2 separate regions of the Homo sapiens genome follow, and region 2 is linked to region 1. The links come from fine-mapping of genetic effects on gene expression. Tissue or cell type: cerebellar hemisphere. Region 1 holds a variant in brackets; the other region holds the start of a gene. All regions are shown on one strand. Distances are from middle to middle.

What was found. PIP is the estimated chance that this variant, and not a neighbour inherited with it, causes the effect.
Region 2: COMMD2 starts here. The variant in region 1 is fine-mapped to the expression of COMMD2 in cerebellar hemisphere (GTEx, PIP 0.96).

What each region holds. Positions count from the first base shown.
Region 1 is chr3:150,108,806-150,113,920 of GRCh38, reverse strand. All of the region lies in intron 1 of LOC105374313 (a long non-coding RNA gene), which reads right to left. Among named protein-coding and RNA genes, the nearest start is that of LINC01998, 30 kb to the right of the region's middle. The variant A/C (reference allele first, on the strand shown) is at 2,731.
Region 2 is chr3:149,750,160-149,754,656 of GRCh38, reverse strand. It overlaps COMMD2 (COMM domain containing 2), which reads left to right and starts at 2,168. Exons shown (of 5, transcript NM_016094.4): 1 at 2,168-2,279; 2 at 2,370-2,447; 3 at 3,172-3,254; 4 at 3,806-3,979. The coding sequence starts at 2,213. RefSeq lists a silencer at 1,943-2,012.

The DNA.
Region 1 (5,115 bases):
AGAAGTTATAGCCTCTAGGGGACTTCCCACCTGTGAAGGGAAGGGGGTGGTCAAGGGGATAGGAACTTGACAAGGACATCCTGCTATAATGATTGCCTTTGAAGGCAGAGAACAAACTTTACTCATCTTTATATATCCAAAGTATCCAACCTGCAGCCTTATCCCAAGTAGGTGCTTAATAACTTAGTGAGGTTGGTTCACACTTAACACATCTGATGAAGCAATGATACATTCAACATGTGTATATCGAAACGCCTATTATGTGCCAGAGAGTTATCAAACAAGCCTTGTCTCTGTCCTTCAGAAGCTGACAGTCTCACAGGAAAGACAGGCAATCAGCAAATAATTACAATGCAGGGGGACAGGTATATTGACTGATATGTCAATGTATGTTTCACCCCTTGATACTACCACTATGGTACAAAACCTATCATTTAATTTTCAGCAGATTAGATTTTTATTTTCAGGGAAAGGGGAGTTTATTTCTCCTATAGAGGATAGGGACAGGGTATGATATTGATGACATTGTTTTTGGTATGATTTCTGGGTTAATGAACATGGATTTGAAATAGCCTACTATTGACTGGAAGCCTTACTGATAACATAAACAGTTGATTAACATGTATTTTGTATGTGGTATATATTATATACTGTATTCTTACAAATAAGCTAGAGAAAATAAAATGTTACTAAGAATACCATAAGATAGAGAAAACACATTTAATATACATTTACAGTACATTATTGTACTGTATTTATTAATACCATAAGTTTATGTTATCTGTTTATAAGATGAATTATCTGTCTGAAGCAGTGGGCAAACACAGCGGCAGACCTCAATCTTATATCAAGCAATTCAACTGTTTTGTAATGTCATGACCTCTCTGTGCTTCTTGGGGATACTTCCAGTATCACTAGTGGCACTTTGTATGGGTCCCATGGTATTATTCAAGATTTACGGTATGCACTCAACAAAATGAAAAATATGTGAGAACCACAAAAGATCACTTTTTTACTGTGATACACAATTTACTGGAGAGGTAAACTGCTCACGTAGAGATGATTAGCATCACATGATGTTTTAAGTGGACACACGCAGCACTTGTGCTCACCATGACAGCAACAGGGAATGGCATTGAAATTATTACAGTAGTATAGGATGTGCTACAATTAATTGTATGTAGTTATAATTTAATACTGTATCTTTTCATTTGCTTACATTTCTCTTGACTAAAAATGACACCGTGTACAGTCTATGTAAGTTTTGATAAATTTTAATTTTTTATAATATATGTATATTTTATAGTAATACATGACAAAATATACTAGTATCTACATATATTTTATGCATTCATACCATGCCTAACTTTTTCTTAATTTTAAAAATATTTCTAGGCTACATAATTCATCTGCAAGTTTCTTCAAATTGTTGCAAACCTCCAAAAAATTGTCCAATATATTTATTGGAAAAAATTTGTGTATAAGTGGACCCGTGCAGTTCAAACCCATATTGTTCAGGGATCAGCTGCCCCTTACCTACAGAGAAGCAAAAATAAGAATTATATCCAACGTTTCCTCAGAAACCCGGCACGCAAGAGTAAAATAAATTGTTGAGTGTTGAGAGAAAAAACTGCCAAACTAGAATTCTTTACCCTGAAAAATTATCATCTTTTAAAAGTGAAAGAGAAATAAAGCCTCTCTCAGAGAAACAAAAACTAAGGGAATCTGTTGTCAGCAGACATGTCTTGCAAGAAATGTTAAAAATAAGTTCTTCGGAGAGAAGGAAAATAATATAAGTCAGAAACTTGGACCTACGTGAAGAAAAGAAGAACTTCAGAGAAGAATTAAGTGAAAGGAAAACAAACATTTTATTTTCTTATTCTTTTTTTCTTCTTCTTCCTTTTTTTTTTTTTTTTTTTTTTTTTTGAGATGGAGTCTCGCTCTGTCGCCAGGCTGGAGTGCCCTGGTGCGATCTCGGCTCACTGCAACCTCCGCCTCCTGGATTCAAGCGATTCTCCCGCCTCAGCCTCTTGAGTAGCTGAGACTACAGGCGTTCGCCACCATGCTCAGCTAATCTGTTTTTGTATTTTTAGTAGAGACAGGGTTTCACCATGTTGGCCAGGATGGTCTCCATCTTTTGACCTCGTGTTCCGCCTGCCTCGGCCTCCCAAATGCTGGGATTACAGGCGTGAGCCAACTTGTCCAGCCTATTTTTCTTATTCTTAATTGATCTAACAGTCAGTTCAAAATAATAACAGCAACAATGTGTTCAACTATATGCCAATATATAAGTAAAATGACAGCAGTGGGTCGGGCGCGGTGGCTCACGCCTGTAATCCCAGCACTTTGGGAAGCCGAGGCGGGCGGATCACGAGGTCAGGAGATCGAGACCATCCTGGCTAACATGGTGAAACCCCATTTCTACTAAAAATACAAAAAATTAGCCGGGTGTGGTGGTGGGCACCTGTACTCCCAGCTACTCGGGAAGCTGAGGCAGGAGAATGGCATGAACCCGGGAGGCTGAGCTTGCAGTGAGCTGAGATTGCACCACTGCACTCCAGCCTGGGCTACAGAGCAAGATTCCATCTCAAAAAAAAAAAAAAAAAAAAAAGACAGCCGTGATACAAGATGCGGGAGGGAGGAATTACAAGTATTTTGTTATTATAAGAGATTAAAATTCAAAAATTAGCCAGGCATGGTGATGCATGCCTGCAGTCCCAGGTACTTGGG[A/C]GGCTGAGGCAGGAGGATTGATTGAGCCTGGGAGGTTGGTGGAGGTTATAGTGAGCCATGGTTGCACCACTGAACTCCAGCCTGGGTGACAGAACGAGACCCTTTCTCAAAAACAAACAAAAATAGTTATTCACACTATCCATGAATTGGTACAATGTTATCTGATAAAAGTATAATGTATATGCTAAGAAGGGGCAAATAGAATTATATAAAATGCTCAATTAAAGCCATAAGAGGTAGAAAAGAGAGGAAGATAAAAATAGAAACAAAGAACAAGAGAAATTAATAGAAAATGGTAATAAATATGGTAGATATAATCACTTTAAATGTCAATGGTCTACCTACACTAATTAAAAGACAAAGATCCTCAGAGTGGATAGAAAAAAGGACCCAACTTCATGTTGCCTATAAGAAACCCACTTAAAATATAAAGAAACATGTAGATTAGAAGTAAATAGAGAAAGATAAACCAGGCTAACACTAATCAAAAGAAGGAGGAGTTGCTATATTAACTTCAGAAGGAGCAGGCTTCAGAGCAACGAAAGATATTAGGGATAAAAAGGGGCACTGCATAATGATAAAAGGATCAATACATCACAAAGACATAACGATCTTTAATGTGTATGTGTCTAACAACCAAATGTCAAATACCTGAGGCAAAAACTGGTAGAAATGCAAGAGAAATAGATGAGTCTGCTATTGTAGTTGGAAACCTTAACACCTATCTATCAGAAGTGGACAAATCCAGCAGGCAGAAAATTAGTAAGGGTATAGTTGAACTCAACATCACCATCAATCAACGGGATATAATTGACATCTATAGACTACAGTCATGCGTCACGTAACAATGGGAATATGTTCTGAGAAACGCATCGTCAGGCAATTTCATCATTGTGCAAACATCATAGAGTATACTTATGCAAACATAGATGGTACAGCCTACTATGCCCCTATGTTATAATGGTGTAGCCTATTGCTCCTGGGCTACAAATCCATAGAGCATATTACTGTACAGAACACTGTAGGCAACTGTAAGACAATGATAAGTATTTGTGTGTCTAAACATACCTAAACATAGAAAAGTAATGTGTTATGCTATGATATTACAACATCACTAAGTGATAGGAATTTTTCAGCTCCATTATAATCTGATGGGACCACTGTCATACATGTGGTCCTTTGTTGACTGAAACGTCATTATGAGGGGAATGACAGTACTTCTGTGGAACATAAAACACACCCTAACAAATTTAAAAAATGAGAAATCATACAACTTCTACTCTCAGATCACAATGGAATTAAACTAAAATGAATAACAGAAAGATGTCTGAAATCCAATGTACTTGGAGATTAAACAACATACTTCCAAATAATATATGGGTCAAAGAAGAAATCTTAAGAGAAATTTTAAAACATTTTGAACTAAATGAAAATTAAAATAAAACATCAAAATGTGTAATATGCAGCAAAAGCAGTGCTTAAAAGAAAATTTATTGAATTGGACACATATATTAGAAAATAAGAAATATATAATAAAGGACTGTTATATGAAATATACGAAGAACTCTTCAAACTCAACAATAGAAAAATAACAACCTTATTAAAAAGTGGATAAAAACCTGAACAGACCCCTAATCAAAGAAGATAGATATATATGTAAATAGTCTGTTCCATATATATATGGAAAGTGAACATATATAAAGATGTTCATCATATTTCATAAGAGAGTTACAAATTAAAACAAGTATTAGAATGGCCAAAATACAAAACACTGACAACTCCAAATGCTGGTAAGGATGTGGAACAACAGGACAACATTTATTGCTGGTAGGAATGCAAATATTGGAAGACAGTTTGGCAGTTTCTTACAAAACTACACATATTCTTACCTAAAGATCCAACAATCACACTCCTCAGTGTTTATCCAACGGAATTGGCAACTCCACACAAAAACCAGCACATGGATGTTTATAGCAGCTTTGTTCGTAATTGCCAAAAATTGGAAATAACCAAAATGTTTTTAGTAGGTGAATGGATATAAACTGTGGTATATCCTTATCAAGAAATATTATTCAGAGCTAAATAAGTTATCAAGTTATCAAGCCATGAAACATTGAGGCAACTTGAATGCACGCTACTAAGTGAAAGAAACCAATCTGAAAAGGCTACATACTATATAATTCCAACTATATGACATTCCTGAAAAGGCAAAACTATGGGGACAGTTAAAAGATCAGTGGTTGCCGGGGTTGAGGAGGGAGGGCAATGGAAGATTTTTAGGGCAATGAAATGATTCTGAATGATACTACAGCAGTAGACACTGATAAACATCATCATACATTTAACAAAACCCATAGAAACATAACACCAAGAGTGAATCCTAAC
Region 2 (4,497 bases), 360 kb after region 1:
TTCTTGGATATAACTTGGTTTCTTTCTTTTTTTTTTTTTTGACAGTGTCTGACTCTGTCACCCAGGCTGGAGTGCAGTGACTCAAATCTTGCTCACTGCAACCTCTGCCTCGCAGGTTCAAGCAATTTTCATGCCTTGGGCTACCAAGTAGCTGGGACCACAGGTACATGCCACCAAGCTTTGCTAATTTTTGTATTTTTAGTAGAGATGGGGTTTTACCATGTTGGTCAGGCTAGACTTGAATTTCTGGCCTCAAGTGATCCTCCCGCCTTGGCCTTCCAAAGTGCTGGGTTTACAGGCATCAGCCACCATACCTGGCCTAACTTGGTTCCTTGACCACCTTTTTTAGACAGCCTATTGTGCTACTCCCTAGTCTCACCTTCACCTCGCCTGTCCTCACTTCATTCCCTGAGATTACAGACAAGAAAGGCCATTTCATATTGGCATAATATTGTGTCTATTTGCAAATTCATTTCAGCATTCCTACTCCCTATATATGTACAGTTCTTGAATACCTCTTTTGAATCAGTTGAAACTGGTTTTTACTGTAATCTCTCATTAATTACAGAATGCTGTAATTCTCTCATTAATTAACTAGTTCAATACATTTTTTGACATGTGTTCATTGTACACTTGTAGAAGAATCATGATTTTACCTTTTCTGAAAATTATTCTTTAATAATGGATGTTTTCTCAATAATGTGTGAATAAAGGCAACTTCAGGAAATGATGCAATTTTTGCTAATCTGCAATTCACAGTCTAAGTAAAAGTTGTGTTCTCTCTGCAAATGCTACTTCAAGAACTAACTAATAAGTTCAAGGACCTGTCTTTCTGTGTCCCAGTGGAAGAAACAATTTCAGTCAGATGTGAAGGACAAAGTAGACACAGAGAAGTGAATTGAAAAACTCTTCCAATTTTTAGTCTGCCTGGGAGACTCAGAATATAGAGTTGTCTCAAGCCTTAGATAGAAAAGACAGATATGAAGAGTCTTCTTCCCTTCCCCTCTCTTCCTCCACACCCTCCATTTTCAAGGGGTTAAGATTTGAAGAATCATATTCCTATCAATTAGCAACTTTATCATCTCTGATATTTGAACCACAGCAGGTGAGAAGAGAGTTGGAAAAGGAACTAAATTATCACAGGCGCTAAATACTTTTTAAAAGGCATTGCTCTGGGCCAGGTGTGGTGGTTCATGCTTGTAATCCCAGCACTTTGGGAGGCCAAGTTGGCTGGATGACTTGAGGTCAGGAGTTCAAGACCAGCCTGGCCAACATGGTGAAAACCCGTCTCTACTAAAAATACAAACATTAGCCAGGCATGGTGGTGGGCGCTTGTAATACCAGCTACTCGGGAGGCTGAGGCAGGAGAATCGCTTGAACCCGGGAGGCAGAGGTTGCAGTGAGCCGGGCGACAGAGCGAGACTCCATGTAAAAAACAAAACAAAACAAAACAAACAAACAAAAACATTGCTCTGAATCCTGTAAGCATCGGTCATTGTCATCATTATCTTTATCCTAATTTATAATCACTCATAAAACTTGTCAGAAGCTTTCAGCTTTCAGGCTGTTATGTAGAAGGATGGGCTTTGCAGCAGGTAAGTGAGGGATCCAACCCTCTCCATCTAACTCTGTCACAGGCTTTGTCACATAATCTCTGGAGCTTTGTGTCTTATCTGTAAAAACAAAGCCATGTTTGTTGAGGATATTAACTGAGATACATTTAAGATAACATAGAAGCTCTGGAAACTATTAGCTTTATAAAAGTGTCAGTTGCTGGACTTGTCTATCAGTTTCCTTATCTCTAATGGAAATTATAATGGAACCTACCTCATAGGGTTCTTCTGAACTCCAAATGTATTTAATAAATGTAAGAACACTTCCTGACACGGTTAGTGCTTAACAAATGTGAACTATTGATATTATTAATGTATGCTCCACGAGGGGGCGTGTCGGATTTGAAACACCTTTTCATCTCCCATAGAGCCTAGCACCTTGCACCCAGCAGGCGCTCACTGCATCTTTGCGGGATGATTTCAATGTTCTGACCTCAGCCTGCGCTGCAGGGAACGTCCGAGTGTAACGCGTTAGTTCGTAGGCCGGAACCCAAAGCTCCGGACGCTGCGACGCCGGAGCCTCTAGGCGCCGGGACACGGGCGCCGGAAGTGGCGAAGGCGGGGTCGGCGCTGCCGGGTGAAATCGTAGGACAGTGAAGATGCTGCTGGAATTGTCCGAGGAGCATAAGGAACACCTGGCCTTCCTGCCTCAAGTGGACAGCGCGGGTCAGCGGGCGTGGGGGCGGTGTTCTGTGGGCTGGGGAGGAGGTCAAAGGCAGCGCCTGGCACTCAACAGCCTTCTGACTTTCATTGCAGTGGTCGCCGAGTTTGGGCGGATTGCTGTGGAATTCCTGAGACGCGGCGCAAACCCAAAAATCTACGAAGGCGCCGCCAGTAAGAAGGGAAAGGGGAAGGCTCCGCAGGCTTCTAGGGCGGTTGCGAGCCATTCCCTGTCTCCCGGGAGAGAAACGGATTATTGCGAGTCCTAGGGTCTTGTTCCGATTGTAGTAGAATAAAACCAGCAGAGCTCTTCAGTCAGGGTGCAAATCCTGCCCGTCCCTTAAGTAGCTGTGAGATTGTTAAAGCTTCTATTAAATCAGTTTTCTCATGGTAAAATGTACATAATACCACCTTACTTTCAGAAATACTGAAAAGTGTTTTGTATAAATATACCAAAGTCTGTGGAATAGCTGGGTCAACTGTAAATTGCAAGTATTTGGTTATCATTATTAGTTGTTCAGATATCCGCTTTTGCTAAAAAAAAAAAAAAAAGTGTTGTTTTACCCCTGGGTAAGAGGCAGTCTCTGGGATTAAGTCAATCCCTGTCGAGTTCCTCTTCTGCCAGACTTGAAGGAGCTACGTATTCAAGAGAAGGGCTACGCACCTGATACTAGTCTCCACAGTTCTGCATTTTGTTAAGGTTACTTGGTGGGAAATACCAAAGGCATTTGGCTGGGAGTGGAATGACAAGGAGCAGGAGCCTCTGGCCAACTTACTGTTTTTCATGCAGTGTTTGAAAACATGTAATAATGAATAGTGTTTATTTTTAAATACAAATATGAACAAGATAAATACTACAGTAGTAATTTATTTGCTCGTTTTTACTTTTCTTTCTCAGGAAAACTCAATGTGAGTAGTGACACTGTCCAGCATGGTGTGGAAGGATTAACGTATCTCCTCACTGAGAGCTCAAAGCTCATGGTAAGGGATTTTCTGGACTGTTTTGTGTTGGCTGGATTCTTAAGAACGGTCTGGTGTACTCTACATCATAGTCCTGGCAGGTACCTGTGTGTTTTAATAATGTTGTTAATGGTTTATAATTGATTTTTTGAAGACATACCTAAAAAATAAAAATCATATCATCTGCTGATATGAATACCTCTTGCTAGTATAAATAGCTAGTATAGAAGTACCTCTAATTCTGCATGTTGTTAAACCATATATGTATCTTAAGAAGATACATAAGAGGAGGGAGACTGTATCAGTATTTTGTTTGCGTATCAGCAGTATCTGGCTTGATGAAGGACAGGAAGGGAAACTGGGCATCTTAACAATTTTTTCCATTTTATACTTTAGTAAAGTACTTTTATGTATTGGTAACACAGATTTTGGAATGGTGGTCAGTGGTTAAGGAATGCTGTTTCTTTTACTAGACAGAATAAATTAGAGGATATCATATTCTTTTGTGTATTTCAATTATTTTAGCTAGACAAAGATAAATTTTGATGTTCTTTTAAACTCAATTCACTTAGATTTCTGAACTGGATTTCCAAGACTCTGTTTTTGTTCTGGGATTCTCTGAAGAATTAAACAAATTGTTGCTTCAGCTTTATCTGGACAACAGAAAAGAGATCAGAACGATTCTGAGTGAATTGGCACCAAGCCTTCCCAGTTATCATAACCTTGAATGGCGACTAGATGTACAGGTATAGCATTTTTAAAATTAACTTAACATAGAATATAAGAATTATTTTAGGTTTGTGTCCTGTTTATTGTATTCTTTACCACCTTAACTAAGATGCGGTTTGAAACTTTGTTTTTTTAATGTTCATTTTTAAGCCATTTCACAAATCATTCATTTTCTTTTATTTTCAGTGTGTTCAAATCAGTTTAATTTGCAAAGTTTGTAAGAAATTGGTTATTTTCGAAAAGGAGATGGTTATATAGATTTTTTAGGTTGGTGCCTAGATGTTTAAAAACTTTTCTGTTTAAATTTAACAGATGTAGAAAAGTGCACAGGTCAATGTACCGCTCAATGAATTATCACATGGTGCATTTAACTGTGACTCACACCCCAGAAGCATCCTCCTTGCCTCCTAATTACTGCCCCTTCACTCCTTTCTAAAGGTAACCAGCATCCTGACTTTTAACACAAATTACATTTACCTGTCTTTTAACTTTGTATATATGGAATGACTCAGTAAATATTCTTTTGTACCTGGCT